Homo sapiens: one gene and its partners. The protein of the gene in region 3 interacts with the protein of the main gene of each other region in a pairwise test. Each region holds a gene or a part of one and is shown on either strand. Other genes may lie near its edges.

Region 1 (11,109 bases), on a different chromosome or scaffold from region 3:
AAATGCTTTGGAGGGTGAAAATGGAGCAATTGAAAAGGGACGCTGGGGTGGCAACCACACACAGGACCCCACTGGGCAAGCAGGGATGTGAAGTTGCCATCATGTTCTTTCCCAGCTCCACAGAGCGGCAGGGTGATGAAAACGCTAGGTCTAGCCCCGTATTCATTTTAATGAAGGCCAAGGCCCATTTCTATCAGAACTTCCTGAAATGATTCAAACTGTTGCTTTCCCCATTATTTCCTATATTTGTTAGCATACGTAACAATCCTGAAGTTATTAATATCAAAGTGGATTTTTAAACATTTTAATAAATTTTTATGCTTATTTAGAGATGAGGAGAGAAAGAAAGTTGGGGAACCTGCATGGCACTACAGCCTAGGGAAGCAGAGGGCAGTATAGAAACGAGAGAACCTCCGCTGGAAAAGCAGATGGAAGAACTAGAAAATAGAGAGAGGACATCAGTGAAGCCCATGGCTCAAGGAAGTTGACAGTGTTACCCAAAAAAGATGTTCGCCACGCAGCTAGGAAGCCAATCCCAGTTTAATTATAAAGCCCAGAGTTGGGGGAACAGAAAAGTGGGGCTCAGGGCCAGTAGTTCAGGACAGACTTGGAGTTGAACTGTATCTGAGTTCAAATCCTAACTCTACCACTGACTCATGCAAATTATGTCTCTAAGTATGTTTCCTTATTTGTAACAATAAAGGGGGCAAGATTTACCTGACCGGATCCTTGTGAGGATTAAATGAAATCATATGAATACAAATCTTATGCTTGGCACATCCTAACAGAACAGTATCTTGGTAGTGGGAAATCTCTATGGAATGGGACTGATGAAGCAAAACCCAAGGCATCAGAGACTAGGTGGGTGAGTGAGGGTCAGGGAGGAAACAGCGTGGCTCCTGGAGTTCTGGTTTTGGTGACTGGGAACAGAGCAATACCACCCATCATCATAGAGAGTAAAAGGCAGGACCAGCAGACGCCGGAGGGAGTTGGAGTGATGCTGGTGAATTGGGTTTTGCATCAAGCTTGCAAGGCTTACAGGTCTTCTGAACGGAGGTGCTCACCAGGCAACCAACACTCGGGTGAGAGGTCTGGCTTGGCAATCTGGGTTTGAGTCACTGGCATGAAGGTGATGTTTCACGTTTAAAGGTTATAAGAGTTGCCCTAGGGAGATAATCAGAACTTTCACCTTACCCTAGGATCTGCGAACCCCTGAGAGTCTATGAATGAGCTTCAGGGAGTCTATGAACATTGTGAGATTATACACAGAATGGTGTCTCTGTGCATTTTCCTAGCTCTAAGCTTTCAGTAAATTTTCAAAGGAGTCTATGATCCCCCAGCCTCATCTCAAAACCACAAACCACCAGTGCAGTGTGAGGCACCCCCTGGGGAATACAGATATTCAAGATGAAGGCAGAGAAGAAAAAAGAAACAGGGAGAGAGCAAGACACTCGTGACTGGGCGGCAACTCCAAGAGAGAGACACCAAGAGGCATCTAGAGTCAGAGGCGGCTGAGGAATTGATCAAGATAAGGAAGGAATCCAGCAGGTGATGCCCCTGTGCTGATAGCCCTACTGCATGCAGTGAGTTCAAAAGGGAAAGACAGGGAGGCAAACACTGTCAATGGCATGAACCAATGGCCTTAACATTATTTCACAAAAATAGAGGGAAAGCTTTTCATAAAGGATCTGCCCCCTTGGGAACAATGAGAACGCAGCAAAAAAAGCTGTATGAATCCAAGTCTGTTTCAAGGGCACACAGAGGAGCCCCTTCCGCACCTTGCACAGCAACCAGATCTCAGCCCATTGCATTAGGTTTCCATCAACTTGACATAGACCCCATGAAACAAGTGCTGGGAAACACGCTGCTAAGCGAAGGCGTCTTCTGTTTGCGTTACCCAATAAAATCACCCAAGAAGAAGGCTCTGTGGCAGATTCCTGACGCGAGCACATGTTTTAGATGTGCGCAAGGCGCCTTCACATAAAAGTCACTGTCATTAAGGTCCAGTGAAGGTAGCTTCAGACAAAAGTCACTGTCATTAAGCTCCAGTTAAGCTCTACGTGTAGTTTATTTGTTTACAGTGCTGGCTTTGGGAGAATGAGACCCAGGATCTATTCCAGCTGTGTCACTTACTGTTTGCCCTGGCCAAGTTAATGAACGTCCCTGAGCTTGACTTTCCTCATCTGTGAAAAGTGAATAGCAACACACACTTCAGGCTTAGCTGTGATTATTTAGTGAGACAATATACTTAATCTCAATGCTCAGGGTCTGATACCCAGTTAAGCGTATTGAATGCTGGCTGGTGCTACCATTATAGCATGCAGAAATGTGTACCACATCCATAACTATCACTTTTCTAGTAGCCACATTAAAAAAATCAAAAGGAGGCCGGGTGCCCTGGCTCACACCTGTAATCCCAGCCCTTCGGAAGGCCGAGGCAGGTGGATCACCTAAGGTCAGGAATTTGAGACCAGCCTAGCCAACATGGTGAAACCCCATCTCTACTAATAATACAAAAATTAGCTGGGTGTGCTGGCGCACACCTGTAACTCCAACTACTTGGGAGGCTGAGAAAGGAGAATCGCTAGAATTTAGGAGGCAGAGGTTGCAGTGAGCTGAGATCATGCCTCTGTACTCCAACCTGGGAGACAGAGCAAGAGACTCTGTCTCAAAAAAAAAAAAAAATCAAAAGGAACAGGTGAAATTAAGTATTTTACTTTACCCAAGATATACAAAATATCATCAGTTCCATATATAAGGAATATACAATTATTAATGTGGCATTATCTTTTCCTTCTACCAAGTCTTTGAAATCCGGTAGTTTACATGTATAGCACACCTCAATCCAGACTAGCCTCATTTCCTGTGCTCAAGAGCCACATGTGGCTTGTGGTGACTGCACTGGACGGTGCGGCTGTAGACCTCTAGCTACCCCAGCAAGCAGAGTAGATCCATACGTCTCTCCCTAAGTATCACATTCTCCCACTACAGAAATCAGAAATGATCTTCTCATATAGTACTAAGTTAAATTCACATGCTGATAGTTTTTCAGCCCCTTCTACTTCAGCCTTCAGATTACTAACAAGTAGACAAGTCGGGCACGGTGGGTCATGCGTGTAATCCCAGCACTTTGGGAGGCGGAGGTGGGTGGATCACTTGAGGTCAGGAGTTCAAGACCAGGCTGGCCAACATGGTGAAACCCTGTCTCTACTGAAAATACAAAAATTAGCTGGGCATGGTAGCAGGTGCTTATAATCCCAGCTAGTCACTCAGGAGGCTGAGGCAGGAGAATCGCTTGAACCTGGGAGGCAGAGGTTGCAGTGAGTTGAAATGTCACACCACTGCACTGCAGCTAGGGAGACAGAGGTTGCAGTGAGTTGAAATCTCACACCACTGCACTGCAGCTTGGGAGACAGAGCAAGACTCTGTCTTTAAAAAAAAAAAAAAAAAAAAAGAATAATAGACAAGTTTCTGTGATGCACAATACACAACAATTTTAGTGATGATCCCCAAACACTAAGCACAGGGGTCTGTGTATTCGTAGTGAAAAATGACCAGATGACAATGAAGGAACTTCTAAGTGATAAGCTAGAGGGGGTCAAGGAATGGCAGGGGTGGCCTATGATGTTTTTAATGAAATGAACAACCTTCAAAACCACCGTGTGGCTAAGAACTGCTAAGAAAAAGCAGCACTTAGCTCAGTACTAACCAGAAAGGCGGGAGAAGGGGAGGCAGGGAGCACAAGCCTTCAGGGATCAGATGCACGAGTGACCTGTCAACCCACAAGGGTCATGGGCTTAGCAGGTCTGCAGCACAGATAAGCACCTCTGGCAGCACCAGCCATGACAGCATTGCTTTGGACGGTCTATGGCTTTATCTTCAAAGACAGCGCAAGATGAAAGAGAAGTGATGGGATTTTAGGGGAAGTGGGAGTAACTTTTTCCCTTTCTGTAGTCAGAAGAGGAACTAATTTAATGCAAAATATATTTTTCCAAGTTTTCAATTTAAGGGAGTAATACACTTTTGACGTGAGATATTGATAGAACTTTCCCCACTTATATTAACATACTTTTCTCATGATCATTTGACTAACAAAGTTAACACAGGGTTTCTGAGAGGTAGATTCAAAACCCTACAAGCGAGAAATGTAAGCAAAGAAACTGAAATTATTATTTTAAGTCATCACAAGGAGACCAATTCAGCAAACACGAGAAACCCAAAGTCTAACAGAGTCTGGGCCATTGACTCTAGTGGCAAGAACCCTTTGGCTGCTAGTCCCCAAGGTCACCCCATCACACTAATATATGTTATGTTCACAGTGAACATGGTGCCCAGAAGAGACCCAATTATATCTGAAAAACTCTGACTGGGGAATCCAAGAAGGTGCATAAACCAGTTTAGAAAGAAAAAGAGTTATGTTTCAGTTTGGCCATGTTATTTGTTGGAGGAAAAGTTGTATTTTGGATAGTGCAGAATAATGTAAAATCCAACAGAACTGGGCATCTATTGGTGGTATAACCTTGCATATATTACTCAACTTATCTAAGTTTCATGGCCAGCTTCAGTGGCTCAGGCCTGTAATCCCAGCACTTTGGGAGGCCCAGGTGGGCAGATCGTTTGAGGTCTGGGGTTCAAGACCAGCCTGGCCAACATGGAGAAACCCCACCTCTACTAAAAATTCAAAAATTAGCTGGGTGTGGTGGCACATGCCTGTAATCCCAGCTACTTGGGAGGCTGAGGCAGGAGAATTGCTTGAACCCGGGAGACGAAGGTTGCATTGAGCCAAGATTGTACCACTGCACTCCAACCAGGGCGACAGAGTGAGACTCCATCTCAAACAAACAAACAAGCAAAAAAAAAAATGAACTTCTCTAAGTCTCATCATCTGTAAAACAGGACTGTCACTGCTGACTTTGCAGAAGTTTTGTGAAGGTTAGGCATTATATGCATAAATGTGCTTCACATAGTGTCTGAAACAGGAGGTGTTTCATAAATAGTTGTATTGATCATAACAAGAGGAAATGACATATTTCTGTTTATTTCCTTGTCATGATAAAGGCATCACTGGAAAAAAGTTTTAATAAAAGACAGTAAAAAGTAAAGGACGCTACACTGACCTCCTTTGTGAACCTGGGCATATACCAGGGATGCAAGAGAGATTCATTTTCTCAATCTTTGAAACCATATGTGATTTTACAAAATTTTATTTTCCTGGTTTAATGAAACATGAAAAGAGACGGTCTTAGATGCCTCTGCAAGTGACCTTGAAAAGTGTGCTGTGTTTTCACAACTTTGGTATTCACCCATGACAGACTTCGCATGTAAACAGCAAGGCGGGGGTGTGGGGGTTAGTGAGAACGGAGTGAGGAGGGTGGACAATGTGTATTTTTCTGTGTCTGTATGTGTATATGCTTTAAGTCTTTTTTTTTTTTTTTTTTTTTTTGACACACAGTCTCACTCTGTCACCCAGGGTGGAGTGCAGAGGTGTGATTTCAGTTCAGTGTGGCCTCGATCTCCTGAGCTCAAGCAATTACACCACCTCAGCCTCCCAAGTAGTTGGGACTATAGGCATGTACCACCATGCCCAGCTAATTTTTTATTTTTCCTAAAGAAAAGGTCTCACTATATTTCCAGGCTGGTCAGAACTCCTGGACTCAAGTGATCCTCCTACCTCGGCCACCCAAAGTGCTGCAATGACAGGCATGAGCCACTGCACCTTGTCTGCTTTAAGTCTTAATGTACAAAGATTTCCTCCCCCATGGTCTCAAAAGAACCCTCTCAAACTACCAGAGATTCCTTTGATAACGAGGAAAAGTTTACATCTGAGAAACTCATTCACACTAAAAAAAGATAGTATTATGATTTTTTTCCTTATAGCAATTCCTTACATTTTAACAGGAGGTGTTCCCTAAAAAGATACCTCAAAGAAAAATCTCTGAGGTCTAAGAAATGCAAACACAATTGCTATAAATATACTGACACAAGAACTTTGTGTTCTAGTAGTAGCATATTAGGAACCAGTAACAATAAAGGAGATAGAAACCTTTCTTAATACCCCTCAAATCAAACCTCATAGGTGACTTTTTAATACAGCTTCAGGTTAGTCTGGTTTCAAGTAAAAGATTTCCTCATAGCTATGCAACTCCATGGTGAATGCTGTGTGTGTGTGTGTAGACTTCAGGTGGACATACTGCACTATTAGATTCTCAATAACATTTAGGATTCATCTGCCAAACTGGAACTTGCACCTGCTTTGCTTGTGACTAGTGTGAAATTGTCAAAGCAAGCCAGGAGCTGTTCTACCAACACATCCACAGAAGAAACGTGGATAAGTTTACCTTTCTTTGGTCTGGGTTTCACTGGCAGGGACTCCTTTCTTTCCATAGCTGCTTCTCTTTCTTTCCATCGTCGGATCTGTTCCTCTCTCATCTTGAAGAACAGGATCTGTTTCTGTTCTTCGCTGAGCTCTGCCAGTAGATCAGGATCTATGTACATCTCCGACAGTATCTGTTTCAGCATCTTTGCACTTCTGAAGTCTTTTATACTTGTGGCAAAAGTTCCTGAAACTGGCCTCCAGGTGTCCCTCCACCTGTGCTGGCACTTGGGCGTTTCCACGAAACTTCCCAAACAGCTCACAATCCTGGCTGACTGGGACAATAATTCAGCAAACTGGCTACTCAGACCTGGCACCAAATGTCCTGTCCAAAATGCTGTTCACTGAACCTGCAGAGAGAAAGAGCCCACATTCAGGCAGCGTGTTAAAATGTGTGGACACTGGCTAGGACGGGTTTAAAAAAAAAAGCTAGGAGGAAACACAGTATCACTTTTCAGTTCAGAGAGAAAAGAGAAGAAGAAAATCTGAGGCACACTTTGTTAAGAGTTTGTATAACCTCTATCCTGTAATTTCTAAAGATACTCTGTCAAAAAAAAAAAGAAAACAAACCCTAACTTTATACAGGTCAATCTCAGGCAAACAAAAAAAGTTCACAGAGGTTTGTCCAGCTCCCAACTAAGCAAACACATTATTACCCCAGAGCCTAACAAACCACCAACTGTGTGGCTGAAAAAAGAAAGAAAAAAAAAAGTCACAGGAAGAAATTAAAAGGCTCTCTGCAAAGTACCTATTTCAAAAGAAAATACCACTTTTGATATGTCACAGAGTAACTCATCCCAAACCAAACCAAAATAGAGCCATGCTCAAGGAAGAAAAAGGAAGAAATAAAAACTAGACCACCATGCATTTTCTGCAATTTCCCTAAAAAGTAGCATTAAATAAACAAAATTATGTACTTTCCTCTTCACAAAAGGATAATGTAATTTCCAGATAACCTACTAGAGCCATGAAAATCAGGGCAGGTGCAAGAGAGAACATCCATCTACATTCTGGAAGGTCACCGAGTTTTAGGTGTGCTTTTTCCAGATAACCTAGTTTAATAAAATCTAAATGGACAGACCAGATAAACTAGGGGGATGAAGAGGTCATTAGGTTCATAACAAAGGATCCTTCATTTATATGACTTTACCGCATGGCTCCTTGAAAGAGAAACCATAAAGCGAGAGTGCACAGTGGCCTCCTAGAAGTTCTCCTGTGGTTGGAAATCCTACTGAGGTTTCATTCTACTTTCCACATTTCTATTTTAAAATATTGGCTTAAAAATATTACCACACTGTCATACTTTCTCTCTCTATTTTTAAACAATTTCTAAGTCCCATAAACCATCATACTTTTGTAATCAGCAGGAAACTATGTAAATATATCTATTCTGGAAAACAAAAGACTTTGGATTCGATGTAATAAGATATAAGAAAAAAAACTTACTACAACTTTTCAGAATCACATGTGTCCTAAGAAATTGACCAATAGGCCAGGCGGGGTGGCTCACGCCTGTAATCCCAGCACTTTGGGAGGCCAAAGAGGGGGGATCACGAGGTCAGGAGTTCGAGACCAGTCTGACCAGTATGACCAACATCTCTACTAAAAAAACAAAAAATACAGAAATTAGCTGGGCATGGTGGTGGGTGCCTGTAATCCCAGCTACTCAAGAGGCTGAGACAGGAGATCGCTTGAACCTAGGACGCAGAGGTTGCAGTGAGCCGAGATCGCGCCACTACACTCCAGCCTGGGCAACAGAGGGAGACTCTGTCTCAAAAATAAAAAAAGAAAAAAAAAAGAAATTGACCAATAATTTGTTATTTATAATAACACCTCAATAATCTTACCACCTTGCCATGTGCTCTCAAATACGTTGTTTCTCCATACTATGTTCAAACAGTCTTAAACTTCAGACAAGTCACTTAGCTATATTATGACCATCGTAGTGTTGTTGGTTTCTCTTCGTTCACCTTGTCATTGATACAGTTAGATTTGTAATGCCCCTCTCACCATCTGGGGGCCTCCTTCAGCTTCCCGTCTTCCTCCTCTTCCGTGCAAAGTAGTTCCTTGATTTACACCTGTCTTTTGAGACAAGCACGCTCAACAGCTAGGCTACCACAGAGTGGTGTGCATACTCAGCTCTTAGATTCGCTGACTGTTCATTGTGAAGCCAGGCCCTTGATGAAACTACACCTATCCCTACTGACTGCAACCTATCATCTCGGCAGCATTCAACTACCAGAATCCAAATGGAACCAAACATTAAGAGAAAAATTTTAAAGGACTAAAAGTAATATCACGCCCTTCCCAGATCCACTTGCCAACTTTGTATTTTGCATTGAGATACCCTTAAAGGCTTGAACAGCCAAAAAAAAAAAAAAAAAAAAAAATGGATGTCTTGTCAAGATTTCTTGACTTTTGACTTTTTGTTTCTAGCAGCTTCTCAAAGGGTGGAGCCAATGAAATCCACAAGCTCCAAGATAAAGTGGTAAGAAAGGAGACAGAATGACTCCTTGACATTCCAGTAAATGTCCTTAAGTTCAATGGTTGGTTTTCGCAGAAATCACACACGGCAGAAGATGAACAGTTCAGCTGGGGTTGAGACTTCTGCTGTGTTCCCCATTTTGAATGCAGCGAATCCTATTCAAGGCATGGGTAGATCCTAGAATCTAAAACCCTTAAAGTGTCAAAGTCATATTCCTCCAGTCTCCCCCGCCCTGCATATTCCTGATAACACAGCTAACACTTCTTGTACCAGGCACCATCTTAATTAAGCACTCTACATGTGTTAACTCACTTAATCTTCACAATAACCCTTGGAGTCCAGCCCATCACTATGCCCATCTCACAGATTAGGAAGATAGAGCACAGGTCAGCAGCTGGTAAGCGGCAGAGCCGGGCAGTCCAGCTCTAACTCAGCTTCACTGTAATACACAACACAGAGGCCTTTTTGTGAGTTTATTTGTGTGCCCAGAATCAGAACAGCAGGATGTGGTGCCATGTATGAAATTTCAGAATGGAAGCCAGCAAATTCCTGCAGCAACAGAAACGCTGAACTGATGGTGCTTGACACAGGGCAGAAGCCTCCTCCTGGTCAACTGTAGCTAAGCTTAGGGGAGGCCAGGTGCACACACCCCAGCCAGGAAGGACAGCAAGGAACCGACTGTCACACTGACCCAGGTGTGGACATTGCTTACCCACGTATTCACCAGACACTTAGTCCCATTTCCCCTTGCACTTAGTCATCCACTTCGTCTCTACAATTTCCCCTTCCAAACAAACACTAAGAACAGCACAAAAAGCACAGCCTCTCACATGTGCAAGGAGGTTCATGGCACCTCTGTGATGAAATTCTCACATTATTTCCATTTTTATGTTGTTTTGTTTTACTTTTTATAGCAAACGTGGATTTCTAACATTAAAATTAACTAGTTCATCTTGAAGGAAAGACACTGGCTTCCTTGTGCCTCCAAGAATACTTGGGGGACCCAGCCGACAACTATCTGTGGTCAGGCCGTTGACGATGTGGCCATTCTGCCACTGCTGAATGGTACTGGTGTAAATCACCTGTCCCCCTCACCCTCTAATTCCCAACCCCTAACCCCCGCTCCAAGGCTTTCTCAGACCCCAACTCAAGCTCAGCACAGTACACCCAAGACACCCAGAGGCACTCCAGCCTCAACTCCCAGCTCCGCCTCTAGTGAGCGGTGTGACTCTGTGCTGTCACCTCACCTCCTTGGGACTCAGTTTCCTCATCTGTGAAACGAGGACTGGTTCAGTCTGTGACTTCTAATGTGTGGGTATCTGACATAATCTACTGTGAAGCGAAGGAGCCTGGTGGAGCCAGGGTAGAAGAAATAGAAATCAGGAAATTAACTAACTAGGGCTTTCCTACTTTCACTCCCTGACAAGGAAGTAATCATTGCTGATACTGATTCAAACTCAGAGGACTTTCCCATACTATATCAAGGGCAGCAAATCTCCGGTTATTCAAGATCCAACAAAGGAATAGCTCAGCTAACACAGCCCCTTTCTTAAAAGAGAGAAATGATAAGCAACAAGCCCACACCTGCTATTTATTCTGAACACCAATTGCTAAAAGGTCAGAGAATCCGTTGTTTTCCATGATACCATAGATTTGGCCTGATTCTCACACCTTCACACTGTTCTACAATACAACTGTCTTTTGAATAACTCTGAGACCTAAACAAAATACAATTTTAAAAGGCCTTAGATACAGGCTAAATCATAAAAATAGTAGGCGGGCACAGTGGTTCTACATGTAATCCCAACACTTTGGGAGGTGGACATGGGTGGATTGCTGGAGCTCAGGAGTTCAAGACCTGCTTGGGCAACATGGCAAAACTCCGTCTCTACATAAAGTATAAAAATTAGCCAGGCGTGGTGGCCCGCACCTATAGTCCCACCTACTTGGGAGGTTGAGGTGGGGGGATCTCTTGAGTTGGAGAGTTTGAGGCTACAGTGAGCCGAGATCGCACCACTGCACCACAGCCTGGGTGACAGAAGGAGACCCTGTCTCAAAAATTAAAAACATTAGGTCGGTGCAAAAGTTATTGTGTTTTACATGGCCAAAAAAAAAGTAACTGCGGTTTTTTTTACGTAAAAACCGCAATTACTTTTGCACCGACCTAATAAAATAAAAAATAAATAAAAGTATTGTGGTATGGACAGTGTAACTATAACATTAACAATACAGTTTGAATTCTAATTCTTTT
Region 2 (8,046 bases), on a different chromosome or scaffold from region 3:
GTTGCTTTTTATGTTTTTTGTTTTAAAGGAATATAAGTCCAGATTTCTAGCATGGAATTCCCACAATCCTTTCCTTCATATAAATTGTGAAAGCTGGGAAACAGGATGGAAGTACCGGCAGGACTCCCTGTCTTTGTCAGAAATTGTGGGGTTGTAGTTGGTAGACAACAGTTTGTAGTAAGAAGAAACACTTTTGTGGTTCATCTACTCTTCAATCTGGCCCTTTCCTTAGCTATGTAGACAAAATATATAAAGCTGCTTATGGTGTTGGTCAACAAGATGACAGAGACAAAGCTCCAAAAGATGCAGCCTCCTTCCTCAAGAACCACTGAAGGGACAGTGGGACCTGAGTTATTGAAAGGGTCATGAATAACATTGACTCATGCCAGCCATAAATATTGAAGAGGTCATGATAAGCATGTGGAAAAGAGGAGCAAACCTCAAAGACCTACACTAAGGAAAACAGCTGTTCCGGGGGTGTCCCAGTCACCTCGATTGTGCTCAGCTTCCCTTTTCTTACACAAGGAAACACCACATATTTATTAAATGGGTCGCCAGCACTTAAATAGATTCTGGATTTTTATAAGTAGGTTTCAATTTTAGAACACAATAATTTTCATTTAATAGAAAAGAGGCACAGACAGAGAAAGAAAGGGAGAAAGAGGGAGACTGATCCTTTGCATATTTCAAATAGGAAACAAATTGTTGAATTGTCTTCTTTTATCTAGGAAATCTGTGCTCAGTACTGGGGAGAAGGAAAGCAAACATATGGAGATATTGAAGTTGACCTGAAAGACACAGACAAATCTTCAACTTATACCCTTCGTGTCTTTGAACTGAGACATTCCAAGGTATGGAAACAATTTGGGGAGTATATTTCTTTGATATAATGGATCTGGTAGCAAAATGAATATAAATTACTCTATGCAGGCAAGGCCATCATATAAATAATGTTTCAGAATAACATTTTAAAATTATTTAAATAGAAGTAACTGTGAAGAAAATATGACTATCAAATTAGAAAATAAGCTGAACTTCACTCCAGTTAATGCTCTCTTCAATTCTGATTTTAGAGGAAAGACTCTCGAACTGTGTACCAGTACCAATATACAAACTGGAGTGTGGAGCAGCTTCCTGCAGAACCCAAGGAATTAATCTCTATGATTCAGGTCGTCAAACAAAAACTTCCCCAGAAGAATTCCTCTGAAGGGAACAAGCATCACAAGAGTACACCTCTACTCATTCACTGCAGGTGCGTGGGATTTGGTAGAATGTGCTCTCAAAATCATAATGCTTGACTTCTCGGTTCACATGTTGTCTTATCTAGTTATCCTCATATATGAAACACATAACCACAGTAAAAACTTCTTATGGAGTCGGTCACTCTCTTGGTTGTTTCCACAACACAACTATTGTAGAAATATAATAGAAGTGATTATATTATAGTGCAATAATTTTAAGTTGTGTTTTTTAATACTTGGTGTCATGTCATCTTTGATTCCTTGGTAGCTAACATTGAGCCAGGAATGTCATTTGTGTGAATGAATTAATGAATGGAAGGGTGTGTGAACAGATAGGTAGATGGGTATCACCTTACACATATACCCATATACATTGATCTACTCTATTAGGTGTCACAAAGACACCTAATATGTTTAATGAACACAAAGTTTATTAAACATATTTTAAGTTAAATATTAACTGAAATCACAAAGCTTAGCAATTTTGATTTGAAACTCATTATTTAATTTTCTAAACTGAACCAAAGGCAAAGATTGTGGTAATATCAATAATACTACTAGATTTTATTAGTTTCTTCATCTGTGATAGGTGCTTACATATTCACCTTAAATAAGCAATATAATTGAAAGAAAGATATATAATATAAAAGTTTACATGAAAAAGAATATTGAAGTAAATGAGAAACGAAAAATAGTAAAGTAAAATGAGAAATGTTTATCTAGTGAAAAACTTTTGGAATTTTTGAAAAAGTCTAATTGTTATTATTGGAATTGCATATACTAGAATCAAGCCTTAAGAAATATATGAATTTTCAGCATTTATGTGGAAAGAAAGCTGAGGAAGGGAAGTTTACACTGTAAAACTATATATGTTTCTTAGAATATGATTTATGTACAATAACTAAAGTGTCCTGCTGATAACATATTGTTTAAATTGAATCTTTATGATAATGCTTTATACTTCTCATTGTTTGGTAAACTATTTGATTGCCCTCTTTTTAGTGAATAATTCTACTAGGTATTACTTTTCTACTGATGCAGAAGTGAAAACATTTGTGAAACGTGGTAGAGAGGCAGAAGAGTGAAGAAGAGCATGTGTTCTAGTAATTTACAAAATATTAGGTCTAATATTTCTGATTACATCAGCTTTCTCTTCTCCAAATCTTGGTTTCCTTATCTATCATACTGGCATTCTGATATTGGTTTCAACAACTTCAGATGTAAATAAAAATGCATTAAAATCCATAAAATACTAAATAAAAGAAAATATATTTGTAAAGTCGAAGACAAATAAGTTTTCAATTCCAGGATTATCACACTCTTAAATTGAAAAATTTGCCTAAAAATGCATTTAGCGTAAATAATTTGGTTCTTGAAAGAGGTTGGAATAAGATAATTATGATAAACATGAAGCAAAAAATATATTCTCTCTCTTCCTGTTTTTATTCTAATATCACCCTTTTTGGTGAGAAGTAGGATTATTTTCTATCTTTTCTTTCTTTTATAGGGATGGATCTCAGCAAACGGGAATATTTTGTGCTTTGTTAAATCTCTTAGAAAGTGCGGAAACAGAAGAGGTAGTGGATATTTTTCAAGTGGTAAAAGCTCTACGCAAAGCTAGGCCAGGCATGGTTTCCACATTCGTAAGTATCCTTCACCATTGCTTTTAACATGCTCGGAATTTTTTTTTTCTTTTTGACGGTTTCCTTTTTTCTTTTCTCCTCTCCTTTCCTCTCGTTTGTTCTTTTTTCCCCTTTCCTTTTCTCTTCTCTATTTTCTTTCCTATTCTTTTAGCTTTTCTACTTTTACATGATAATTCACATTAAATTATTATAAGTCTAAATAAGAGCCTAAAGTTTACTAGCACTTTGTTGTGACAGTTCATGAAGAGCCTTTCCCTAAATGCTCATGAATTTCTTAATTTTCTTTCCTTCACTCCTGTATCGATTTGTGTTGTGTAACAAACCACCCCCAAATTTGGGAGCCTAAACAAATAACATTTATTATGGTTCAGTAGTCTAATGATATGCTGGAATGTTCTGCTGGTGCCCTCAGGCTCAGGCAATAGAGACCAGGCTGACTCATGTGTCTGCCTTCAGCTGATGTGTGCCCTACAGTTTGGCTGGTCTAAAGTGACCTACACTGCCAGTAGGCTGGCATGTGGCTGCCATTTAGCTATGGCAACAACAGTGAGTGGGCCACATGTCCCTCCTCATCCAGAAGACTAGCCCAGGCCTATTCACATTAAAGCAGCAAGTTCCACAAGGGAAAGAAGACTTGTGTGAGACCACTTGAGGCCCAGGCTTAAAAGTGACACACATGTCTTCTTCTGTATGTTATTAGCCAAATAAATAAGTCATAAAGCCTGCCCAGATTCAAGGGGTAGGGAAATAGACTCCACTTCTTGAGAGGGCCTGCAAATTCACATTGCAAAGAAATGTGGATACAGGAAGGAAAATAAGTTTTATATTCTTGTAATCGATCTATCGTGTATACCCTCTATGTGGTAGTAACTGTAGATGGTCATCTGGGAATTAATCCTTATTCACAGTGTAAACTTAATTACTCACTAAAATATATAAAGCTTTTAATCATGTATGATATTGAGATTTCATATCTTGGTACTTAAAAATGTATCAAATGCTTGCTATGTGCTCTTGCTATAAAGAGCTAATTGGTATGAGGGAAAGCCAGGTATTTACTAATCAATGTAGTGAGTAAAATGACAGAAAAATTATAAGAAGAACATGAATGAGGGCATTTAATTTAAACTTTAGGAATCAAGAAACGCTTCTCGAAGCAGTGATTCCTGCCCTGATTCTTAAATAATGTGTAGGCATTAGACAGGAGGATAAGTACAAAACGTGGCATCATGAGCAAAGGCATGGAAATGGCCCATGAGCGGAGTGAACACTGGTTTGGGGTTGCTCCAAGGTAAAGTTCAAAAAGTATCCTGCAGTCAACCCTTTAGCACCATAAAGAAACTAAATTATTTAGATGTTTTTATGAGAACATATCAAAAAGTACTTTTCTGTCATCCAATACTTCCACAAATAAATCATTAGTTCTTGCTAATCTTCATCTGGCATAAAAATAATGACATCAACTTTCTTCATGTAATTTCCCACTTAATTCCTTTACTAGGAGCAATATCAATTCCTATATGACGTCATTGCCAGCACCTACCCTGCTCAGAATGGACAAGTAAAGAAAAACAACCATCAAGAAGATAAAATTGAATTTGATAATGAAGTGGACAAAGTAAAGCAGGATGCTAATTGTGTTAATCCACTTGGTGCCCCAGAAAAGCTCCCTGAAGCAAAGGAACAGGCTGAAGGTTCTGAACCCACGAGTGGCACTGAGGGGCCAGAACATTCTGTCAATGGTCCTGCAAGTCCAGCTTTAAATCAAGGTTCATAGGAAAAGACATAAATGAGGAAACTCCAAACCTCCTGTTAGCTGTTATTTCTATTTTTGTAGAAGTAGGAAGTGAAAATAGGTATACAGTGGATTAATTAAATGCAGCGAACCAATATTTGTAGAAGGGTTATATTTTACTACTGTGGAAAAATATTTAAGATAGTTTTGCCAGAACAGTTTGTACAGACGTATGCTTATTTTAAAATTTTATCTCTTATTCAGTAAAAAACAACTTCTTTGTAATCGTTATGTGTGTATATGTATGTGTGTATGGGTGTGTGTTTGTGTGAGAGACAGAGAAAGAGAGAGAATTCTTTCAAGTGAATCTAAAAGCTTTTGCTTTTCCTTTGTTTTTATGAAGAAAAAATACATTTTATATTAGAAGTGTTAACTTAGCTTGAAGGATCTGTTTTTAAAAATCATAAACTGTGTGCAGACTCAATAAAATCATGTACATTTCTGAAATGACCTCAAGATGTCCTCCTTGTTCTACTCATATATATCTATCTTATATAGTTTACTATTTTACTTCTAGAGATAGTACATAAAGGTGGTATGTGTGTGTATGCTACTACAAAAAAGTTGTTAACTAAATTAACATTGGGAAATCTTATATTCCATATATTAGCATTTAGTCCAATGTCTTTTTAAGCTTATTTAATTAAAAAATTTCCAGTGAGCTTATCATGCTGTCTTTACATGGGGTTTTCAATTTTGCATGCTCGATTATTCCCTGTACAATATTTAAAATTTATTGCTTGATACTTTTGACAACAAATTAGGTTTTGTACAATTGAACTTAAATAAATGTCATTAAAATAAATAAATGCAATATGTATTAATATTCATTGTATAAAAATAGAAGAATACAAACATATTTGTTAAATATTTACATATGAAATTTAATATAGCTATTTTTATGGAATTTTTCATTGATATGAAAAATATGATATTGCATATGCATAGTTCCCATGTTAAATCCCATTCATAACTTTCATTAAAGCATTTACTTTGAATTTCTCCAATGCTTAGAATGTTTTTACCAGGAATGGATGTCGCTAATCATAATAAAATTCAACCATTATTTTTTTCTTGTTTATAATACATTGTGTTATATGTTCAAATATGAAATGTGTATGCACCTATTGAAATATGTTTAATGCATTTATTAACATTTGCAGGACACTTTTACAGGCCCCAATTATCCAATAGTCTAATAATTGTTTAAGATCTAGAAAAAAAAAATCAAGAATAGTGGTATTTTTCATGAAGTAATAAAAACTCGTTTTGGTGAATTCTGTAATAGCTTATCATGAAGGTCAAACACAACCTTTAGATTGGTTTGGTTTTCTATATCTTTACTCTTTTGTCTGATTTTATATGTCTTAACTATACAGCACCGATTATTGTCCATTCAACTCACATTTATTTTGTGTCCCTACTTCTAATTATTTCACTATTGTAACATATAAAATTAACAATTAACCCTTATAGTAGTATATAGATCCTTGTGCTTATTTAACAGATGAAAAGAAGTAAATTTTACAATGAAGCCACAGTTTCTAATTTATATTAAGGTTACTTATTACATCTTTACTTATTAATGAGAAAAGGGGATTAGAATCACCAATTATGGGCACAAAAAATAAAGTTTGCTTTCACTTACCTCTTCAGTCACTCAAACTATTATGCATTCTTTTCTTTTATTGAAACTTGATCAGTTGCCATTTTCTAGATAATGTAGTTAAAATTTGCAGTTCTCATGTTCAATAGAACATTATGATGTATGCCTACTTTATCTGTTAATTGCTTCAAAATACAAATAGCAGAAAGTCTAAATAATCTACAAGCAAAGTTTTTCTTCAGAAGTTTCAATTGCAAGTAACATCTTCCAAATGTAGTTGTGTGTTTTAAATGTGTTTTCCACCTGACACTATCTTTTGAAAGATTAAAAACTACTTAGAAAATAGAGCAATAATAATTTCTATTAGTTTAAGAATCAAGCTTGAGACTTTTTTTCTACATATGGGAATTTGTTGTAAAGAAAGAGATGAAATAGTGGCTCAGAAAGCCCACTACTTTGTGAGAACATATACTAAACCGAAGGTGAGACCCATGGCACTAGAACATGGAATTATATGTCTATGATTTTTACCTGTAGAAAGAAATAATATGTGAATTATAGGTCTATGTCTATGGCCATGGGTTGCATTAATGGGGATCTGTTACAAGGTATAAAAGATTTATTTGCTAAAGTTTGGCACTGCCATTATTAATTCTAGGATCCAGTCAGAAATATTAAGCAAAAAGTTTTGACTTACAAAAGCCTGGTACACTGTAGGGATAATGTTATGAATCCAGAACATTACATTTATTGGGCAAAAAGAAACTTCTAGGTTTCTTTTAAAGTTGTTTGCTTTATTCCTGGTATTAGAATTCAATGGGAATAAAAGATACATTTAGTAAGCCTAAACTTCAGGTCCCAAGCTATTAATTGTGTACATAAGTGACAAATAAATATTTTCATTTAAGAGATATATATATTTTAATATTTTCTTGCAAGAGGAAAACTGTGTAAAGTGATTAGCTGAACATCTGTCTTTGCAAAGATAATTTTAAATGCGTTAAGCTTCCCCTCAGAATTCTTATATTTGTACAGAGAAATTTTCCTGTTTTTTTCCCTCTAAAATATTAAACATAAAATTTATTTTTACAACTAACTAGGACTGATCTTAATTTTAGATTTATACCAGATATTGGTTATAAGATGATTTCATAACACCATATTAGATCTGAATAAGTGAATGCTATTTGCTCCTAGCTAATTGCAGCATGTTTCTTGATATGAAGACCTTAAAATATATCACTTCAAAGGAAATGAATATCTGTTAAAATGAGTAGAAAAGGCTATGCTTTCAATCTCCTACACAAATTTTACATCTGGAATGATCTGAAGGTTCTTCAAAGACATTCAAAATTAGGCTTTTTTATGTCCTGTTTTAAGTGAAAATATTTATTCTTCTAAGGGTCCATTTTATTTGTATTCATTCTTTTGTAAACCTCTTTACATTTCTCTTTACATTTTATTCTTTGCCCAAATCAAAAGTGATTCCTAAATTTTAATTATATTTGTAGGACAATTAAAAGCTTTTGATAACTTACAACAAATGAATTCTTGTTTTTTGCTAAGATCCCGTAAAGAAAACTCTTCTTCTTTATTCAAACTATCCATGATTACTTTCTTCAAAATGACATGAAATTTGATTGTCAGATAAAATACAAGGCATTGGGTTACATTCGAATTTTAAATGAAACAAGAATAGTTTTTTAGTGCAAGTATGTCTCATGCAGTATTTGGGACATATTTGCACCAAAAATTGTTTCT
Region 3 (11,109 bases):
GGCAACAGAGCAAGACTCTGTCTCAGAAAAAAAAAAAAAGACAAAAAATAAACAATAGACGTGGATTCCAGAGAAGATTCTGCTCTGAAAGACAATTCCAAGTCTCCTTTTTTCTCTGGGCTTTTGTTTTCTCTCATGCTATCTCCACTTTATTGGGAGGTGGTAAAAATGCCCAGAGCTGACATATTGATATCATCTTACAAAAAGGAGCTCAACATCATCACACATGGCAAGGAACCACATCCCAAGTTTATTTGTGCTTTTCAAACCAGCCAGAACAACCAGTAATGTCCTCCTCCCAAGGTTTCCTTCTCTCTCACCTTCTTTGTGAAAAGCTTGTGGAAAAGGCAGATGTGGTTGTGTGGACACATTTAGAGATGGGGATGAGCTATGACTAGGCTGGTTTAGTAACAGGTTTGATGAACGTGCCTCTTCCCACTTGTCTTACTGGTAGCTTACAGTCACTCTGAGGTGTCAAGAGACTTGGGTCTCTTCAGCAAAGAGAGGAGTCCAAGGCGTTGGTGGGGTGGCAGAAGTAGGGAGTGGGAACTTTTGATGATCAGTTTCCTCATAAAGGCAGGAGAGAGGGAAGAATATATTTCCTAAAGGAGGAAAAATACATAAATTTGCTTTTGTGATTCAAAATATAGATGTATTAAAGGGCACAGAGTATAATGTTTTCCCCCTTACCCTGTCTCACAGTTTCTCTGTCCTTGGAGGCAACCATGTTATCATTTCATGTCTCCCTCCAGAAATATCCCATACAAATATAAACAAATAGGTATATATAGTCTCCAGTCCTTTTTTATACAAATGGGGCAAATTTGGCTCCCATTCTTTGCTGTTTTATTTTTTTTAAACTTACCAACATATTTCAGAATGTATTCCACACAGTTTCCCTTTCTTTTTTACTGTTGCATAATATTCACTTCTATGAATGTACTATAGTTATTTGACTAGTTCTCTGTTAAACATTTAGGTCATTTCCAAGTGTTTGCTATTACAATGAACCGTATGTGCCTGTCATTTTGCATATGTGCAAGTATAGCTGTAGGATAATTTCTATTTTTTTTTCTTTTTTTACCCAAACCAAAAATGGTCAATAGGATAAATTCTTTTTTTTAGATGGAGTCTTGCTCTGTTGCCCAGGCTGGAGTACAGTGGCTTGATCTCAGCTCACTGCAACCTCCGCCTCGTGGATTCAAGCAATTCTCCTGCCTCAGCCTCCTGAGTAGCCGGGTTACAGGCGCCCGCCACCACGCCTGGCTAATTTTTGTATTTTTAGTAGAGATGAGGTTCCACCATGTTGGTCAGGCTGGTCTCGAACTCCTGACCTCGTTATCTGCTCCCCTTGGCCTCCCAAAGTGCTGGGATTACAGGCGTGAGCCACTGCGCCTGGCCAGATAAATTCTTAGAAATAGATTTGTTGGGCCAAAGACAATGAAGAGATAAACAAATAAATGACAGAGTGAAAAGGGTGAATTTGTTTTTTATTTTTATTTATTTTTTTTGAGATGGAGTCTCTGTCACCCAGGCTAGAGTACAATGGCGCGATCTCGGCTCACTGCAACCTCCGCCTCCCAGGTTCAAGTGATTCTCCTGCCTCAGCTTCCCAAGTAGCTGGGATTACAGGTGCCCGCCACCATGCCTGGCTAATTTTTGTATTTTTAGTAGAGATGGGGTTTCACCATGTTGGTGAGGCCGGTCCCGAACTCCTGACCTCAAGTGATCCACCTGCCTTGGCCTTGAAAGTGCTGGGACTACAGGTGTAAGCCACCATGCCCGGCTGGCTGGATTTGTTTAGATTTGACAGAAAAATTCCAACCCTCTATACTTGTGGCCATGAAACAGTCTTCATCAGGAAAATCATAAAGTCAAACCTTGAGTGACAGGCCTGAGCTGGTGTTGTATGGTTGTACAAGGGCATTGGAGAATAAGATCTATCCTTATGTATTTTCCTAAATGAGTTCACTCAGCTGCTGCAGCACACTAGAGTGGGCTCTGGTCTGGACTCCAAGGAATGTTTGTATCACTGTCACACTGATGCCATTCTTTACCCCCAGCAGTGAAGACTGCTCCTATTTCAGGCCAGAAGATGGAGCTAGTGACAACATGCTGGTCTTGGGGGCCCTCCATCAGAATCTTAATTCTAACCAAAACCCACTCTGCACCAAAGTGGCTCCCACTATTACTCCACCCAAACCAGGCACCCACCCCCACTATTTTGAAACACAATGTGGTTCTTGCTAATACAACACAAACCTATTCTTTTTCTTTTTTTGAGACAGGATCTTGCTCTTTCACCCAGGCTGGCGTGCAGTGGTGCAGTCATGGCTCACTGTAATCTCAACCTCCTGGGCTCAAGCATTCCTCCCACCTTAGCCTCCCAAGTAGCTGGGCCTACAGACGTGCACCACCACACGTGGCTAATTTTTTAAAAAAAATTTTGTAGAGACCTTCTGCCCAGGCTGGTCTCAAACTCCTGATCTCAAGTGATCCTCCTGCCTTGGCCTCCTGAAGTGTTGGGATTACAGGTGTGAGCCACTGTGCCTGGCCCTGCAAACCATATTCTCTATTACTTAAAAGTTAATTTGATTATGTTCCATAGTTCCAATATTTCATATGTTCCAATATAAGGAATCCTCATATTGGATTCCTAATCTTGGTCAGTCATATTGCAATATGTGGGGATTTTGGGGAAATGGTGCCCTGGGTTTGAGAGCTGGGGATAAACCTAGATCCATCCCTGTGGCAAAAATTGCTAGTTTTATCCCAATATCCATTCTTCCCTTTGTATTTAATCATGAATCTCCCAATTCTAAGCTGGACACAGGGCTATAAGCTTTCTTTACAGCTTGCTGTGTCCATATATTCCAACTTCTGACCAATGGAATGTGAAAGGAAGTGTGTGCGCAACATCTGTGAAGTACCCTTAAAGGAAGAGGGTATGCTTTTCTCTCTCTTTTTTTTTTTTCTCAAGACAGTCTTGCTCTGTTGCCCAGGCTGGAGTGCAATGGCGTGATCTTGGCTCACTGCAACCTATGCCTCCCGGGTTCAAGCGATTCTCCTGCCTCAGCCTCCTGAGTAGCTAGGATTATAGGTGCACACCACCATGCCTGGCTAATTTTTTGTATTTTTAATAGAGATGGGATTTCACCATGTTGGCCAGGCTGGTCTTGAACTCCTGACCTCATGATCCGCCCGCCTCGGACTCCCAAAGTGCTGGGATTACAGGCGTGAGCCCCTGCGCCCGGCCTGACCTTCTCCTTTTATCTTTCCTGCTGTGCTGTGTAGGTTGCAGACAGGATGGCTGGAGATTGAGCATCTGTCTTGGCCTTGAGGTAACCTTGAGAATGTTGGGCACACAGAGAAGAACAAAAAGAAAAGGTACCTGGGACTGGATACCTTGGACCACTTACCTCTAGATTTTTGCAGAAGAGAAAAATACATTTCTGTGTTAATTTTTTTTTTTTTTTTTGAGACGGAGTCTCACTCTGTTGCCCAGGCTGGAGTCCAGTGGTGTGATCTCGGCTCACTGCAACCTCCGCTTCCCGGGTTCAAGCGATTCTCCCCAGTAGCTGGGATTACAGGCGCCCACCACCACACCTGACTAATTTTTTTTTTTTGTATATTTAGTAGAGATGAGGTTTCACTATGTTGGTAAAGCTGGTCTCGAACTCCTGACCTCAGGTGATCTGCCCACCTCGGCCTCCTAAAGTGCTGGGATTACAGGTGTGAGCCACTGTGCCTGGCTTTCTGTGTTAATTAAGTCATTTTTAGTTTAGATTTTATGTTGCTATTAGTTGAACCTTATCCTAAGTGACACTGTCCCCAAATTTAAGAAAAAAACAATTCCAGAGGCATTTTCTTTCCATCAGTGGTGAATCACTAGCATTAGTATGAGAAATGAAGAAAAGCTACTTCACTGGCAACTCTCATCTTTCAGAGAAACAAAGTAGTGGCCCACAAGTTCCACTCAACTATTAGGCAGTTCATTGGCCATGGTTCTGATACCTGGGTTTCATCTTTCTTCCACTTCAAAGGCAGTGGTGAGATACTCCTTTGGAACAATCCCAACGAGGCTGTTCAGTTCTCCCACCCACCAGCCATACATGTTATACTCCTGAAAAGTGAAAAGAGGATAGCGTCAGTTAGAATTTGTTCATGCTTCTGCTCATTTATTCTAGTGATTGCATGGGAGATTCTGTTTGGTGGTTTCATTGTTGCCATTATCACTGTGAACTGTTAACTTCCCTGATGGGATTATTAAATTTAAAAAAATCATCTAGAGGAAGAGAGCAAGCACTTTCCTTTTGCCATCTTCCTGTCTACATTGTAAAATTAGCACATTTGATGCCCTTGCTGAACCTGAAGAGCATTTTTTTTTAAACCAAGCCGAATGGTATGGCTTCTTAGAGAAAGTTGGGCACACATTAAATTGCCAGAACACTACAGATATTCAAGGGGTCAAGTCATAGTTCAAATCAATAATATTTATCAAGCATCTTCTATGTGCAAAGTGCTGTTTGAGTTCCCATGAGGTATGTAATGATGAATCAGAAGATTGCTTGCTCCTTGGGAGCTTACAGCAGAGTAATGGGCTTTGGAGTCAGACAGACTGAGATCTAATCCTCGCTTGGTCATTTAGTAGTCACATGACCTTAGGTTCTCCTAGCTTTAGCTTCTTTGTGAGAGTAGGGATAATATCTCCCTTCTATCTTGTGGGGATGTAAATTGTATCACTGAAGTAAAAACAACTGAAAGTGTTTGATACATAGTAGATGCTCTAAACATTAGATTCTTTCCCTAGAACAGGTGAGAGGTGACAGGTACATTAATAATGACAGGCTAGTCACAGAGAGGAACAAACAAGAAAGAGGATGAGAGGGTTTTAAAGAGAGTTTAAGGGGTAGTCACAGAGTGAGGATGCAGCTCCTTGAATACAGAAAAGCTTCTCAAAAGCACAGCAGATGTTGAAGAGTATGGGGCTATTTCTTTTTTTTTTTTTGAGACGGAGTCTCGCACTGTCGCCCAGGCTGGAGTGCAGTGGCAAGATCTCAGCTCACTGCAACCTCCGGCTCCCACGTTCAAGCAATTCTCCTGTCTCAACCTCCTGAGTAGCTGGGATTACAGGTGCGTGCCATCACACCCGGCTATTTTTTTTTTTTTTTTTTAGACAGAGTCTGGCTCTGTCTCCCAGGCTGGAGTGCAGTGGCGCAATCTCGGCTCACTGCAACCTCCACCTCCCAGGTTCAAGCGATTCTCCTGCCTCAGCCTCCCGATTAGCTGGGATTACAGGCGCGCACCACCACGCCCGGCTAATTTTTCTATTTTTAGTAGAGATGGGGTTTCACCATGTTGGCCTTGATGGTCTTGAACTTCTGACCCCAGATGATCCACCCGCCTCAGCCTCCCAAAGTGCTGGGATTACAAGCGTGAGCCACTGCGCCTGGCCACAACTGGCTAATTTTTTATATTGTTGGTAGAGATGGGGTTTCATCATGTTGGCCAGGCTGGTCTCAAACTCCTGACCTCAAGTGATCCACCAGCCTCGGCCTTGCTAAGTGCTGGGATTACAGGCGTGAGCCACTGTGCCCACTCTGAGTATGGGGCTATTTCTGATAGCACCAGAAAATGTTTTCTTTCTTTTGAAAGAAGTAAAATTAGAATGAAAAAAAAATTTTTTTTTTTTGAGACAGAGTCTCACTCTGTTGCCCAGGCTGGAATGCAGTGGCACAATCTTGGGTCACTGCAACCTCCACCACCTGGGTTCAAATGATTTTCCTGCCTCAGCCTCCTGAGTAGCTGGGACTACAGGCTTGCGCCCAGCTAATTTTTGTATTTTTAGTAAAGACGGTGTTTCACCCTGTTGGCCAGGGTGGTCTCGAATTCCCGACTTCGTGATCTGCTCACCTCGGCCTCTCAGAGTGCTGGGATTACAGGTGTGAGCCACTGTGCCTGGCCAAAATAAATTTTTTTTTTTTTGAGATGGAGTCTCGCTCTTTTGCCCGGTCTGGAGTGCAGTGGTGAGATCTCAGCTCACTGCAACTTCTGCCTCCTGGGTTCAAGCGATTCTTCTGCTTCAGCCTCCTGAGTAGCTGGGACTACAGGTGTGCACCACCACGCCCAGCTAATTTTTTGTATTTTTAGTAGAGACGGGGTTTCACCATGTTGGCCAGGCTGGTCTTGAGCTCCTGACCTCGTCATCCACCCGCCGCAGCCTCCCAAAGTACTGGGATTACAGGTATGAGCCACCGTGCCTGGCCCCGAATGAAATTTTAAGTATGGGAAATATCACATATTCCAGTTCAATTGGATTTGGGGTACCAAAGAGCTAACTGCTTCTTTGTACACTTGGTTGCTGAGTACTATTAGGAAAAACAAAACAAAAGAAGTAAAACCAGATTGGTGATATGTAAAATTCAGAGTCCCTAGCATTATCTGGTGATCTTTTTATCTCTGGATGCATATAATTATCATAGAATTATGATATCTAATATCTCCCCTCCTCAAACTCATGTTGCTTCTGACAACCTCTTCTCCACCTTCAAAGGGAAAAGAGAAGCCATCAGATTTGTCAGCCACCAGCCACCAAAGCAGGAACTTACCTGTATTGACAACCATCTTTCTTTCCCATTAAAGTCGGGGAAGCACCCCTCCCCTGGTTTAAGACTACCCCTCACAACACGCACTTGCAACCCTCCTCCTTCCTTTCCGAGAGATGAGGTTCTGTGGAGACTGACCATTGCCTGTAAAGTAAATGGCTCCTTCCACCAGCACTGAAAGGTGTTCAAGTTTCTCTCATTTTTTAAAACAACCATTAAATAGCTGCCACTGATGTCTACTTCCCATTTCTTCTAGTCTATGCCACACTTGTTGGGAAAGTTTACTCACTCACTGCTCCAACTTCCTTCCTGTTCACTGTTGAAGCCGCTCTCATCAGGCTTGGTTGCCGTCCTCTACTTAGGCTCTCTCTCCATGGTCTCCTGTAACCTCTGCATTGCTCAAATTCCCTGAGCACTTCTCAGTCCTTAACTTACTTGATCTCTCAGCAGTGCTGGCACTATTGGTCCTCCTTGAGGCCTTTTATTCTCTTAGTTTCTATGATAATTATACTCTCCTGGTTTCTCTCCTTCTACTTCTACTTCTTCTCATTCTCCTTTGCAGGCTCATCTTGCTCAATTCTGCTTTTTAATGTGGTTGTTTTCCAGGGTTCTGTCCTGGCCTTCTCTTCTGTCTTGATGCGCTTTACTAGAGCAATCCCATATATCTCTGTAGAGTATCCACCATGTCTGTGTTTATCACTCATGACCACAGCTCCACCCCAGGTCTGTACTGGACCCCAATAGCCAAGTGCATTCCACCAAGCTGTTCAAACTCAGTATGTCCTAAATTTAACATGTAATCCTGCCTTCACCTCCATCCTGACTCCAAAGCTATCTTTGCTTCCTTGGTTCTCTATCTCAGTGAGTTGTACTACAATGCACTGTTACCCAGGCTGGAATCTCAGGAGTCATTCCCAATTTCACTTTCACCTTCTTCTTCTTTCTTCTTCTTCTTCTTCTTTTTTTTTTTTTTTTAAGATGGAGTCTTGCTCTCTGTTACCCAGGCTGCAGTGCAGTGGTGTGATCTCATGATCTCGGCTGACCACGACCTATACCTCCCAGGTTCAAGCAATTCTCCTGCCTCAGCCTCCCGAGTAGCTAGGACTACAGGCACGTGCCACCATGGCCAGCTAATTTTTGTATTTTTAGTAGAGACGAGGTTTCACCATATTGGCCAGGCTAGTCTCGAACTCCTGACCTCAGGTGAGCCACCCGCCTCGGCCTCCCAAAGTACTGGGATTACAGGTGTGAGCCACTTCGCCCAGCCCCATCCCCCTCTTCTAATCAATCCTTGAGTCCTGTCGATTCTCCCTCTAAAATATTACTAAAATCCTCCATCTTCTTTCCGTTCCCAGTTGCCAATGCCTTAGGGTCATGTAGCTATCGTCTCACGTGAGAACTACAGAAACAGTCTCCAAGTTAATCTCTGTATCAGCATTCTTCTTCTCCACTCTATTCATTGTGCAGCCAGACTCGCTCCCTACAGTACACATTGATAATGTCACTGCTCTGCTTGGAAACTTTCGGTGGGTTCCCAATGCCCCTTGTTAACTGGTTTTTGTTTTTGTTTTTGTTTTTTTTGAGCCATAGCCCCTGTTGCCCAGTCTGGAGTGCACTGACACGATCTCAGCTCACTGCAACCTCTGCCTCCTGGGTTCAAATGATTCTCCTGGGTTCAATCTGAGTAGCTGGGATTACAGGTGCCTGCCACCACACCTCGCTGATTTTTGTATTTTTAGTAGAGATGGGGTTTCACCATATTGGCCAGTCTGGTCTTGAACTCCTGACCTCAGGTGATCTGCCTGCCTCGGTCTCCCAAAGTACTGGGAATACAGGCATGAGCCACTGTGCCTGGCCACCCCTTAACTTCTTAACAAAGTAGACAAGGCCCTGCATGACCCAGTCCCACTCACTGTTCAGCATTGTTACTCACCTCCTAGATTTAGTGTTCCTTAGTAAAATAGAACTTGTCTCAGCTGCTCCCATGGGCCACAGGCTCCCTCACCTTGGAACCTTTCCTCTGCCTGTTTAGCCTCTACTTCCCTTCTCATTTCATGGGGCTTACTCCTAAGCAGCCTTCAGATCTCAGTTCCTGAGTTACTCACTCCCTAGAAGCCTCTCCTTGACACTCTCTGACTGTGTGGGGTCCCGGTTACACGGTCCACAGTGCTGTGCCCTGTGCTTTCCTGGAAAAGAGCTTGTGATTACACTGCCTTCTATCTGCCTGTCTTTGTCTCAGTGTCAATCACTAGTTGGAAAGTTCTGAGGACTGGACCTTGTTGGTTTTGTTTGCTTTTGTGTTCTCAGCATTCAGCACTATATCCAGCACAGAGTGGGGCCAAATAAATACTTGTTAAATGAGGCCGGGCGCGGTGGCTCACACCTGTAATCCAGCACTTTGGGAGGCCGAGGTGGGTGGATCACCTGAGGTCAGGAGTTCGACACCAGCCTGACCAACATGGTGAAACCCTGTCTCTATTAAAAATACAAAAATTAGCTGGGCGTGGTTGAGGATGCCTGTAATCCCAGCTACTCGGGAAGCTGAGGCAGGAGAATTGCTTGAACCCGGGAGGCGGAGGTTGCGGTGAGCCAAGATCATGCCATTGCACTCCAGCCTGGGCAACAAGAGCGAAACTCCATCTCAAATAAAAACAAAACAAAACAAAACAAACAAAAAAACTTGTTAAATGAGATTATGATGAAATGAAGGGGGCAGTGGGAATTTGTATTCTTAGTTGAGCAGATTTAGTTACAACTAACTCCAAGATATTCCCCTGGTGATTGAACTAGTTGTGGCAGAAAGAGATCAACTACCTTTGGAGACAGTCTCCTCAAATGGCTCCTTATACAACAATAAGAGTCTGAAATGCCACAAGAAGTGAGACTACTGAGTTGATCCTTTTAGGACCAGGGAAGTGCCTTGTGAAAATCAGCCTTAAATAACTAAATGTGTCTGTCTGCCACCTCTTCCTACACCACACCTTCTTTTCTTGTTTTGTTTTTTGAGACAGGGTTTCGCTCTGTTGCCCAGGATGGAGTGCAGTGGTGCAAGTATAGCTCACTGCAACCACTCCTGGGCTTAAGTGATCCTCCCGCTTCAGCCTCCTAAGTAACTAGGACTACAGGTGCATTTCACCATGCCTGGCTAGTTAAAAAAAAAACTTTTTTTTTTTTTTTTGTAGAGATGGGGTCTCCCTATGTTGCCCAGGCTGGTCCTGAACTCCTGGGTTCAAGCAATCCTCCTGCTTGTTGGGATTATTGGAGTGAGCCACTGTGCCTGACCCACCACACCTCATTTCCTCCCTCTCCCAGGCCAGCTTCTCCCTACAGTTCGCAACGTCTTATGGGAAATTACCTATAATTCTTTAGCTTTTTTTTTTTTTTTTTTTTGGGAGACAGGATTTCACTCCCTTCACCTAGGCTGAAGTGCAGTGGCATGATCTCGGCTCACTGCAACCTCTGCCTCCTGGGCTCGAGATTCTCCTGCCTCAGCCTCCAGAGTAGCTGGGACCACAGGTGCATGCCACTGCCTAATTATTTTTTATTTGCTAATTATTTTGTATTTTTTTTTTGTAGAGATAAGAGTTTTGCAATGTTGCCTAGGCTAGCCTTGAACTCCTGAGCTCAAGTGATCCCCCAGCTTCAGGCTCCCAAAGTGCTGGGATTATACCCTGCCCAGCCTGTCAGGGCATTTTTAAGCTCCTCTTGGTACAAGATATGTTACTGTCCATTTTCCGACACTGAAATTAGGGCAGTTTCTGACTTAAGTTTTCTTGTAGTGTTGCCTTGCTGTGAAGGGGAAATACATACTCTGTCTACCTCTCACATTGTAACTCGTAAAAACTAGCTTTAGCTCTTCTGCTATCTCACAGGCAGAGAGTGGGCAGTGTTGTCTGAGAGTCTTTTGATCCAAGTCAACTTGCTGAAATGTGTGAAATGTGGTCTTCCACCTGCCAGATGCTGTCATCTGCATCACCTGCAGGGGACAGTAAGGCATTTGCTCCCCGGGGGTTGTTCAACGCTCCTAACTTTGACTAACACTTTGTAGCACCCCTCTTTAGTCGTAATGCCAGGAGTAGGGATGAAGCCTTGGGAAGGTGCTCTCTGCCAACTCGAAGAGGGTGCGAACAGGAAGCAGATGAGTCTCAGCAGGGTACCTGCAAAAGCCAGGCTCCCAGTCTGTCTGCTCTTGCTCCAGGGGAACACTGACCCTGCCGACTGCAGATGTAGAAGCCTCGCCACAGTGATGAGAACTGAAATGAGTGAAATCAACTCTCTGCCCTTCAAAACAAAAGAGCAGGCAGAAGTGTAAGGAGGATGGCACAGTCCCAGAGACCATATGCATCCTGCTGTGGGAGCCTGGGAGCTTAATCAAAGCACCTACAGGTCCCGGGATCTGACTGTCTTTTCCAGATTTCATCCCTTGGCTGTATACCCGAAAAGGGCTGCAGGGCTGAGATGTTTAAAGCATGAATGGAAAATTTCTAACCTTCTCTCCCACTAC

What was found.
Region 1: the proteins of SKAP1 (region 3) and SH2D4A interact in binary tests that used the Homo sapiens proteins (3 or more experiments, as listed by UniProt).
Region 2: the proteins of SKAP1 (region 3) and PTPRC interact in a two-hybrid assay, tested with the Homo sapiens proteins (one study listed by BioGRID).

Annotation. Positions count from the first base shown.
Region 1 is NC_000008.11:19,314,958-19,326,066, reverse strand, and holds part of SH2D4A (SH2 domain-containing protein 4A), read right to left. Parts: intron 6,724-11,109; 5' UTR 6,520-6,723; coding exon 6,339-6,519; intron 1-6,338. UniProt on the Homo sapiens protein: Inhibits estrogen-induced cell proliferation by competing with PLCG for binding to ESR1, blocking the effect of estrogen on PLCG and repressing estrogen-induced proliferation. May play a role in T-cell development and function.
Region 2 is NC_000001.11:198,751,521-198,759,566, forward strand, and holds the end of PTPRC (receptor-type tyrosine-protein phosphatase C isoform 1 precursor), read left to right. Parts: intron 1-728; coding exon 729-851; intron 852-1,073; coding exon 1,074-1,252; intron 1,253-2,748; coding exon 2,749-2,884; intron 2,885-4,385; coding exon 4,386-4,661; 3' UTR 4,662-5,956; downstream 5,957-8,046. UniProt on the Homo sapiens protein: Protein tyrosine-protein phosphatase required for T-cell activation through the antigen receptor. Acts as a positive regulator of T-cell coactivation upon binding to DPP4.
Region 3 is NC_000017.11:48,133,215-48,144,323, forward strand, and holds the end of SKAP1 (src kinase-associated phosphoprotein 1), read right to left. Parts: intron 4,124-11,109; coding exon 4,022-4,123; 3' UTR 4,015-4,021; intron 603-4,014; 3' UTR 228-602; downstream 1-227. UniProt on the Homo sapiens protein: Positively regulates T-cell receptor signaling by enhancing the MAP kinase pathway. Required for optimal conjugation between T-cells and antigen-presenting cells by promoting the clustering of integrin ITGAL on the surface of T-cells.